Linked DNA regions of Homo sapiens: region 2 is linked to region 1. The links come from fine-mapping of genetic effects on gene expression. Tissue or cell type: hypothalamus. Region 1 holds a variant in brackets; the other region holds the start of a gene. All regions are shown on one strand. Distances are between the middles of the regions.

Region 1 (5,535 bases):
CTCTTCTCCATCTTCACTGCTCAGGCCCGAAAACTCGGAGGCAAACACAATTCCTCTCCCTTTCCAATATGTCCAAATCAGCTGTCAACTCCATACCCAATATATAGCCCAAAGCAATCCACTTCACTCCATCACCATGGCTGTCTCCACAGTCCATGTCACAGTCTCCAGATGACTATAAAACTTCCCAGCAAGTCTCCCTGCATCCAGTCTTGCCCCCTTAGAATCCATTCTCCACACTGCAACCCACGTGATCATCTAGGAACATAAATCCTATCATGTCACTCCTTGTTTAAGACCCTCCGATGGTTTCCTTGAAACTTAGAGGAAATTTCAAACACTTTCAGAGCCCTGTGTGAATCAGCCACACCCTCCCCACTCCTCCTGTGTACCCCTGTCTTTCCCGCACCCTCTGTGCTCCAGTCACACTGAACTTCCTTCTGTCTCAAACACACCAGCCTTATTCCCACCTCAGACCCTCGCAGTGGCTGTTCCCTCTCCATGAGATGCCCTTCTTGCAGAGGCCGGCTCCCTCCTGATGTTAGATGCCAGCTTAAATATCACCTCTTCAGAAAAGCCTTTCAGGATTACCATGCCTAATGCACCTTCATCACATCACCCTGTCCTATTGGTATTATGGCTCTTACCACTGCCTGACTTTAAATCAGCTCTCTCCCCTCATGAAAGTATAAGGCCCCAAGGGCAGGAACTTGTTTATTACTATATCTAGTGGTGGTATCCAAATTATTTAACAACAGGTCTGGCATAGACTCCAACCCATCAGAAGGGATGCCCATCTGTAAACCCTCAGCTGGCCTGACTGCAAAGTAGTCACTGGACATCAGCCTTCTTGTGTCCTGCATCTGAACAGTGTGACTCTCAATACATGTCAGTTGAATGGGTGAATGAATAAATTAACAACTGTTTCTTGGTTAGGTTCACTGTTCCATCAGGAACACAGGCCTTCACTGTTTTTCTTAAAAAATATATTTATTTATATATTTATTTTTGAGACTGGGTCTGGCTCTGTCACCCAGGTGGAGTGCAGTTACATGATCACAGCTCACTGCAGCCTCAACTTCCCAGGCTCCAGCGTTCCTTCCTCATTAGCCTCACAGGTAGCTGGGACCACAGGCACATGCCACCACATCTGGCTAATTTTTGTATTTTTGGCCGAGATGGGGTTTCACCATGTTGCCCAGGCTGGTCTCGAACTCCTGAGCTCAAGCAATCCACCCGCCTTAGCCTCCCAAAGTGCTGGGATTACAGGTGTGAGCCACCGTCCCCAGCCACAGGTCTCCATTACTAAAGAAGGGTGTACTGAGCCCCTACATGTCCAGGCCTGATCTGCACCCACTGAGAGGCCCCTCGGTTTTCCTGCACAGGTTACTTCTCTTCAGGGACTGTTGTTGTTTTTAAATTTTATTTGAACCAGTAGCTCTGGAATTTGGGTAGGATGATTTCCGCCCAAGTCCTTGACATCCACCAGTGTTTACTTCCTTTTTGTGCATTCTGTGGGCACCCACGGCTGAACAATAGTGAGAGGGGCTCTGAAACTGATTTCAGAAGATGGGGTTCAAGGTCAAGCAATATCACATGCCAGCTGTGAGTCGTCAGGTCTTGGACAGATTATTTAAGTTCTCTGAGTCTACTTTTCCATCTTTAAAATAGGCACATAATAATGGCCTACCTCCCGGGATGGCTGAAGGACTGTATGAGATGGTACACAGCAAAGTATCAAACCAGCCACACCTAGCATTTGAGAGCCATATGTGTTAATTTCATTTTGCTCACCACTTCTCTTCAGAGTTGTTATGAAAATCAAATGAAATAATACACATGCAGCTGCTCTGCAAACCATATGTAATGTTCAGATTATTGATAATAAATTATCCCTGATTTGAGAAATCAGGTGGCTTTCCAGAAATTATGAAGAGCTGGAAAGGAACTTTAGGCCTTGTGGTGGCAAAGTCAGTGCTCCAGCCAAGGAGGCCCATGCTCTGCTTAGCTAAACGGCCCTCCCTGGAGATAGCATCATTGGAGGGCAATCTTAGTATGTCATACAAGGTTGCTAGGTGCTAAAAATATAGACTTGCCAGTTTCCTACAGAGAAGGAGGGTTTTCTGCTGGGTTCAAGCATTACTCTAGCAGCAAGATCTGGGGGCACCTTCTCTTTTATCTCTCCTCCGAATCAAATGTCTTGCCCTTTATTTGAAAATAAAGCTCTCCCAGCACTTTGGGAGGCTGAGGTAGGTGAATCACTTAAGCTCAGGAGTTTGAGACCAGCCTGGGTAACAAGGCAGAGCCCCATCTCTGCAAAAAAAAAAAAAAAAAAAAAAAAAAAAGAAAGGAAAAACACTCAGCCAGGTGTGGTGGCACTTGCCTGTAGTCCCTGCTACAAGGGAGGATGGCTTGAGCTTGGGAGGTTGAGGCTGCAGTGAGCTGAGTTCGTGCCACTGCATTCCAGCCTGTCTTAAAAAACAAAAGAAAAGAAAGCTCCCTGGGGCTCTCACCTCTCTCATTCATCCAGGCTTTCCCCAGTTCCTGGAATTCTGTCTCCTTCTGCCTTCTCCGGCCACTAGACCACCTCATATGGAAATTCAGACCGTGACCTGAGCAGCCCTATGGAGCTACACATGTCACTTCCTGCTCTCTTCATAGTCACATGCTAGTACACAGCAGCCCCGACCTAGTCACAGCTACCTGCAGTGGGGCCCTCACCCTAAAAGCCCCACCAATACCGACACACAGCCAGTTACCTTGATTTGGAGACATTAAGGTTCTCAGAAGATCACTTAAGCCCTTAAATCAACAAAGTAGTTCTTGATGCGGCCCACAGCGAGGTTTCTTACCAACGCTCTGTCTAACAGCTTCAACCAACTATTTTTGCTAACTAGGTACTAAACTTTTAAAGTCATTATTTAAGTCTTTTGTGCCTCCTAAATTCACTGCCTTGGAGCAAATCCCTGGTCATGAACCTCTGGTTGCCCCCTTGCCCAGACTTTCTCAGAGAGAAAGGTAGGAATGGGTCCCAGAGTTGATGTCTCCACTTAAAACCCATCTGCCACTTACAAACTATTGACCTTCGGCAAATCATTTCATTTCTCCATGCCTCCGTTTCCTCATAGATAAAACTGGTGATGATCATGATGATGTTACCTACATCACAGAGTTTTTGTAGGAAATTAAGAAAATGTCTGTGAGGTGCTCAGCTCAGCA[C/G]AGTGCCTCGCACATTCACAGTAAGTAAAGAATATGTCTTAATTTTAGTATTAGTATTACTGTTTAGCTCAGGAGTAAGCAAATTAAGGCCCAAGTGTCAAATCCTACCACACACATTCATTTACATATTGTCAATGCATGTTTTCACTACAATAGCAGAGTTGAGTGATTGAAACAGAGACAGCATGGCCACAAAGCCTAAAATATTAACTAGCTGGCCCTTTACAGAAAAAGTTTGGCAACTCTGGGTTTAGCCTGTTGTATCTCTCCTTCCTGGCCAGATGGTGAGACCAGCATAAAAACCACTGGTGACAGAGGCTGTTAGTTGCCTCCCAATACCCAGTTTTCTCTTCCTGTATAGTAATAGAATCCTCTCCCCTTTTTAGCCTGCACATGATGCCTGGAATAAAGACTGCATTTCCCAGACTCCCTTGCTACTAGATACAGCCATGTGACTGAGTCCTGGCCAATGGGATGTAATTTTAACTACTTTATGCATTTTTTCTTGGGGGAAAATAAAATTCTTATAGGACTTCCTTTTCCTCCTTTCTGGAGTCTGAAATGTTAAGTATGGAGGCAAAAGCTGAAGCTGGAGCAACAGTCTCAGAATATGACAACAACCATGAGAATGGAGGCCATTCATAGCAGAACTACGAGACAAGAGGAGCCTAGGTCCCTGAGCTGCAGAACTGCATACTAACCTGGTATGCATCTTATTTGAGCAATTTTGGGCTTTCTGCACTCAGTGATGATTTGTTAGTCTTAAAAAATATACTAGACAAATCTTTAAAGAAGAGTAGAAAGCTTATTGTTAGTTAGCCCTCAATGGCTCTTGTTTGACACTACCTAAAAATTCTTTGCAGTAAATTTTGTACTCGGATAGGTTGGTTCTTGGCCACACAGAACAATGTATTCTTGCAGAAGGCCAAAAGAACACTGCACATGTTTTATGTTTATTCAGGGAAAAGGATTAATACTCATTCAAGGAAAAAAAGATTTATTAAAAGGCTTAATCAGGGACAAAAAAGAGACTCATTTGGAATTAAGATTTAAAAGAAGATGAAAGAACAAGCAAAAGAAGAGTGGCATTAAGCCTGAAAAGAGAATCCAAGTCTTGGACTGACACTGGTTCAAGTTGGGTCTCTGGCTCATGCTTCCAAAAGGAGCTGTCCTCTTAGAAGCAAGCCCTCCAGTGGGACAGGGTCAGGGTAGGGGTTGAAAGACACTCTTATATTCTTACAGATGAGAAGACTAATGCTCAGTGAGGTGAACTCCTTCAGGGCCACAGGCTGTAAAGATCTAAACACCATCTGATCCAGTTTCAATATGACTGCCTGGATGAAGAAGGATTTGAGACTAAGTTTATTCCTCCAAAGCAAACCAACTGAGAATGCAGGTAAGGCAGGAAACAGTCATTGTTTCTGGAGAAAGGATCTTCTGTGATCTTGTGTCTGAAGTCTGTTTGAACTTCTGTAGAAATGCCTGGGAAATGCACACTGTGAGTAAAGAAAGGAGACCTAGTACTTTTTAAAATGCCATTGAAATCTGTGACTGTAAAGGAAAGAGACTGCTTGCATCCTGCCAGCAAAAAACAGATTTAGAAAAGAAAGAGCTGTGTCCAGGAAACTTGTGAACTTTCTGTTTGGATGGCATATATTTTCTTTATAAACCCTCTTTCATTGTCACTTACTCAGTTACTAATTACAATAGTCTCTGGGGATGATTGGGCTGGGAGCGTTCAGTGACAACCAGATAGTTAAAGGACATACAGAACACTTCCCAAAATTCAAACCACTGCAGAGCCCAGAAGCTTCACAGTTAGAAAATCTCTGTTCTCAATGAGGCAAGGCCACCATTTCCCATAGTTGTGCCAAATCCGCTTCCAGGGTTAACTTTTGCTTACCAAGTGTTTCATATTTTAACATTTGTGTGTGTGTGTGTGTGTGTGTGTGTGTGTGTGTGTACTGGGACAAGTATATAAGTAAACAGTGTCACACTTTATAACTAACAACTGTATGTGTTATTACCCCATTTTACAGATAAGGAAACTAAGGTCAAACTTAAGAGACTAGTTTGCCCAGATTGCCCGCTAGTAAAGTGGCCTTATTGAGATACCAACTGAGTTATTGTTCATTCAAACCTGCTCTTTAAATTATTTCTCTTTTTTAAAAATGAAGAGCTGGAGAAAATTTCTTATGACCAACTAAAGTCAGAGAAGTCTGTGCTGTTTTGTTTTCAAAGTTACCCAGTACTTTATGTTGCCTTTATTTTTAATCAGTGGCTCTGATTCACCCGCTGCACCTTATGCATTGATGT
Region 2 (5,000 bases), 40 kb after region 1:
ATAAAATGTAACTACCGTATCTAATTTAGATGATACTTAGATGAGACTTTGGACTTTAGACCTTAAAGTTGTTGCTGGAATAAGTCAAGACTTTTGAGGTTGTTGGGATGGAATAAATGTATTTTGCATGGAAGAAGGACATGAATTTTGGGGGACCTGGGGCAAAACGTTATGGACTAATTGTTGATATCCCTTAAAATCCATGTTGAAGCCCTAACCCCCAATGTAATGGTATTTGGAGGTGGAGCCTTTGGAAGGTAATTACGTTTAGATGAGGTCATGAGGGCAGGACCCTGTGATGGGACTGGTCCCGTTAGAAGAGGGAGAGACACCAGAGCTCATTCTCTCCATCAGGAGAGGACATAGCAAGAAGTCTGCAAGCCAGGAAGAGGCCCTCACCAGGAGATGAATCTGCCTGCATCTTGATCTTGAACCTCCCAGCCTCCAGAACTGTGAGAAATAAATGTTTGTTGATTAAGGAAACAAATAAAACATAATTACAATACAATCAAATATATGAAAAAGGAGTGTGTATGTGTGTTTCTGCGTGTGTATACCTACAAAGAAAATAAGACTAAAAAACTATTCTAAAAATATTCATAAGAGTTATCTCTGAATTTTGGCAGAATGTGCAATTTGCTGCTTCTTTGTATTTTTCCAGATTTATCATATCTTCTATAATTAACATGTTACTTCTGTAAATAGGAAAAATATGCAACAAAAGAAATTATGCTAGTGTCTTTGATAAATCTAATAAATCTGGAAGTGTTTGTATTCTAGATTGATTAGCTATTATAATTATGTGATTTCTTTCTTCTTTCAATGGGCCTTGATGTTTAACATATATTTACACAAAATTGCTATGTATATGAGCTAGAGAGGAGTATTTTTAAGTAATCAAGAAGTCATATTTACATTTAGAATTGCCTCTCTTTTCATGCCAGATGTAAAATTTGGAAAGAGAAAGAAGAACCAGGCAGTCGTTGCAGACCATATATACAACTGAGTCCTCCTCAAAAACCTCTCAGTATACTTCCAAGAGGGCAGGAAAAAGGAGAAAAAGAGAGAGCATGTCATGAGACCCAGTTCTCTGGGGGCTCAAGAATGAGTTAAACTAACTCCTTCCACCCTGCTAGCAGGGAAGAGTTGATTGTACCTTCAAGCCTCTGATCAACCAGTATGTGAAAACCCACATACTGAGACACTTCCAGAAAAGAACTGGTTACTATTAAAAAGAAGGAAAGTTAATTTTAAAAAAAGGAAGTGAAAAGGAAGAGGAAACATTTTACAGTTTTCATTGCAAAATGACAATACAATAATTCATCTTAAAATATTATATAATAACTTCATCTCAAAACAATAACACAGTAATTCTGTTGTACTACTAGAGGGCATTGGAGTAAAGGAAATATATTAGAATTGTATGGGTGGAATGTATACTTGCATATAGAATTTAATATTTATAAACTATATAAATTCAGAATTATAAACTATATTAATTTTGCTTCCTCTTTGATAAAACTCTTTCATACACATCATTGCATTAGATTCTCACAACCTCCTTTATGTGGTACTTAACACAAATGTTCTCCCCTTTCTTTATATGAAGAAGAGACCCATGGAGGCAGGGTAGTATTCAAGCCCAAGTCTTATGTGGTCAGGGGAAAACTCGAATATATTATTCATGCTGATGAGATACAGAAATATCTCATTTGCCTTCTTTTTAATATGTTTATTGCACTAGAAAAATTGATTACGCTGGATAAAATTTTCCACACATGGAAAAGCACCCAGTACAGTTCCTGCATTTGGTGGATGTTCCCAAAATATAAGATGACTGACATGTACTTGATCTTAATAAGGAACAGACTTCTTTAGAAAATTACAGCCTTTATATTAGAGTTTTCATTACTCTTTGCTTTGCTCAAAACTCGCCTACATGCTACTGAAGGATTTCATCCCAGGGGATAAAAAACTTTGTCTCAAATATCAGAGGACTTGAGGTCAAAAGCTCCTAAAGGTAGCAATTTATCTCTTTCTTTATAATTAAGTCAGTTTAAATTAATTTGGACCATAGTTCTAAAGAAAACCAATCTGATCCCAAACATTTCACGTGTAAAATGAAAAAGAATAAAGCTAGAAACCACACAACCATCTAAAATTTTTCCTGCTAAGAAAATTGCCACAGTCAGAGTGGTTGGTTAGCTGCTGAAAAACAAGCTGGGTTGCGCTTAGTGAAGATTGAATCTTCCTTTCAACAGACATTGTCTCTGGCTGTGAGGTTCACATCTTACAACACCCAGTAAGCACGTCCACGGAAAGTAAAAAGTTCAATAAATCATTCAGATGGTTTCAAATACTCAAAATACATGCACTCAGGAGGATCCACTGTCTTGGCAGCTGTGTGAATTTTTCACATTTCTACCTGATAAAGTTCTTGGGGAAAAGTTTCCTCTTCTCTGGGAACCTGGGAACATGGTATTCTGCACCCACCTGTGTGTGGAATAGGCATAAATTTGTCTGCCAGATGGGGAAAAACCTTCTAGAAACTAAGATCCATGTTTCTTTAAAATGACTCTGCTTTTTCCCCACTGAGACCCTCAGTGTATGGACCGAATGCAGCTGAAGTAGGGTGGCCTGCCAGGCTTTCAGGGAGCTTCCAGACTGGGCAAGTCAGGGTGGCCCATGAACCCCTGGCCTCAGAATCTTGTCAGTGATGTCAATAATTAGAATTATGCCAATAATAATGTCAGTAATGCTAATAATAATAGTGCTTGTCAATAATGCAGATCCTTGGGGCTCATCTCAGACCTTCCCAATCAGAATCTCTGGGGGCAGAGTCTTGGAGTCTGCATTTTAACAAGCTCCCCTGATAACTCCCCTAAAATCTGGGCAGCACTGATCTCATAGCTCCTGGGGGAGCAAGACAAGCACAAGCGAGGGCAAGTGAATGCAACTCTAAGAAAGAGCACTGGCTCCATCCAAGCGGACAGATCAACGACGGGTACACAGACTGGTCAGGAAAAAAATGCTAGACAGAGAGAAGTTCAAACAGTGGGGAGTGACGAAGAAGCAAGCTTTTGCCCACATGAGAGAAAGTGTAGCTCCCCATCCAGTCCACGCTACTATAGCAACTAGGGAAGTTGAGATAGCAGAGGGAGAACTGCAGCAGCTGTGTTTGTGGCTAGGCCCGCTGGTCTGGATGCGGCCTGGGATTTGCCCCTTCTCCAGCTAGAGAGTCTGGGGATCCCACAGGAGCAGTAAGGCCACACAGCGGTGTTGTGCACATGAACCGAAGGCAGTGAGTCTCTACTCTAGTGGTGAGCCCATTAGTGTTTAACAATGGGCTCTCCAGGGGAAAATAAAACCCTGACTTACAGCATTTGCCGCTTTCTATGGTGTAAATACTCCCACCATGGCTAATTTCAAGTCATTCAGTGATGTCACTGAACATGAACTTAGGAAAATATAGACACACAATGGCTCTCACATGCCAGAGTGAGCCCCCTCCAGTGCATGACTGCCTACACACACACACACACACACACACACACACACACACACTTCTCACATAAATACACTTTTACTTTTGTATGATTCTGTCCTATACCTAAGGGAAGAAGACTGTTCCTCCTGTCCAGTAACTGAACATACAACTATTCTTTGCTGATCATGCATTTGCTCAGAAGCATCCATTTTTATACAAAAGATAATTTTTCCCTGAGTTAAGTAAAAAGTTTTGCATTGAGAAAATGTTAATCACTGTTAACCTATCTCTTTTCAGTCTGATAAAGAAATTACCATATGCCTATATAGTATATCAGCAGATTAGTTTCTCTCCCTTCCCAAAAGACATTCACATCCTAATCACCAGAACGTGTGAATACATCATGTGACATGGCAAAGGGAAATTAAGGTTGAAGGTGGAAGCAAGCTACTGATCAGCTGACTTTAAAGTAGGGAGATTATTCTGGATGATTCTGGACCAGTGTTAGCACAGAGGTTCAGCAGGGTTGGTGTCAGAGTTATGGGATGTGAATAAGGTTCTACAACCCACTGCTGGCTTTGAAAATGGAGGAAAGGGCCACAAACCAAAGAATGAGGGTCACCTCTAGACGCTAGAAAGGGCAAGAAAACACTCTCTCCCAGGGCCTCCAGAAAGGAACACAATGCTGTCAACCCCTTGATTTTAGCTCAGTGAGAGCCACTTTAGACTTCTGACTTCCAGAACTGTGGGATAATAAACTGGTGTTGTTCTAAGACACTAAGTTTGTGGTCATTTTCGACAGTAACAATAGGAAACTAATGGAGGATGTTTTTCAGGGAAGTGGCAAAACAAAGCAAGAAAAATATATAACTAGAAAGCCATAAATGGCCCTAGAAATGCTGACCACATCTGTTCACAGTGCAGACATAGAAAGGCTGCCTATAGCACGCTCCCTCTACACACACACACACACACACACACACACACACACACACATACACACAATCTGGGAGAGGGCTCTGCAAAGCCTAGGGAAGCAGTTTGAGTCTCACTGAGAAACATATAGATGTTAGGGGGCTTATATCTGTCACTTTGTCCCAACTCTTCTGTCAGAATGTTCCATCTCCACATCACCTAATTTAAATACATTGAAACAAGATCCTCACTGTGAAATTAATACCTGCACCATTGGTCAGAACTGGCATTTAGCATTGCCCAACCTGGACAAAGGCAGGATATTCAGGAATCTCCAGAAGAATTAGACATCCTGTCTTATAGATGCTTATTCATAAAAGAGTGGGGAGAGCCTGAAGGTGTAAAATGTGTTATTTGCCACCTTTAAAACTTCTCCATGGTGCTGAGAGGTCCATCAGTCAAACTGCCACATTTTACAGATGAGGAATAAGAGACATGATACAAGTGGCCCAAAGCCACCCCTTCCACTCATCAGTGTCAGAGCCGGGACATAGCCTGGCCCCTCCCCTTGGTTCCTCCACTGTAGCCCATGACAGGG

What was found. PIP is the estimated chance that this variant, and not a neighbour inherited with it, causes the effect. A credible set is the group of variants that fine-mapping cannot tell apart.
Region 2: it holds the start of TAB2-AS1, and the variant in region 1 is the best candidate, but not a certain one, in a credible set for the expression of TAB2-AS1 in hypothalamus (GTEx, PIP 0.54).

What each region holds. Positions count from the first base shown.
Region 1 is chr6:149,214,162-149,219,696 of GRCh38, forward strand. It overlaps a transcript of TAB2 not described here. Among named protein-coding and RNA genes, the nearest start is that of TAB2-AS1, 41 kb to the right of the region's middle. RefSeq lists an enhancer at 3,616-3,705. The variant C/G (reference allele first, on the strand shown) is at 3,220.
Region 2 is chr6:149,254,891-149,259,890 of GRCh38, forward strand. TAB2-AS1 (TAB2 antisense RNA 1) reads right to left here and starts at 2,661. Exons shown (of 3, transcript NR_149096.1): 1 at 2,494-2,661. It also overlaps a transcript of TAB2 not described here.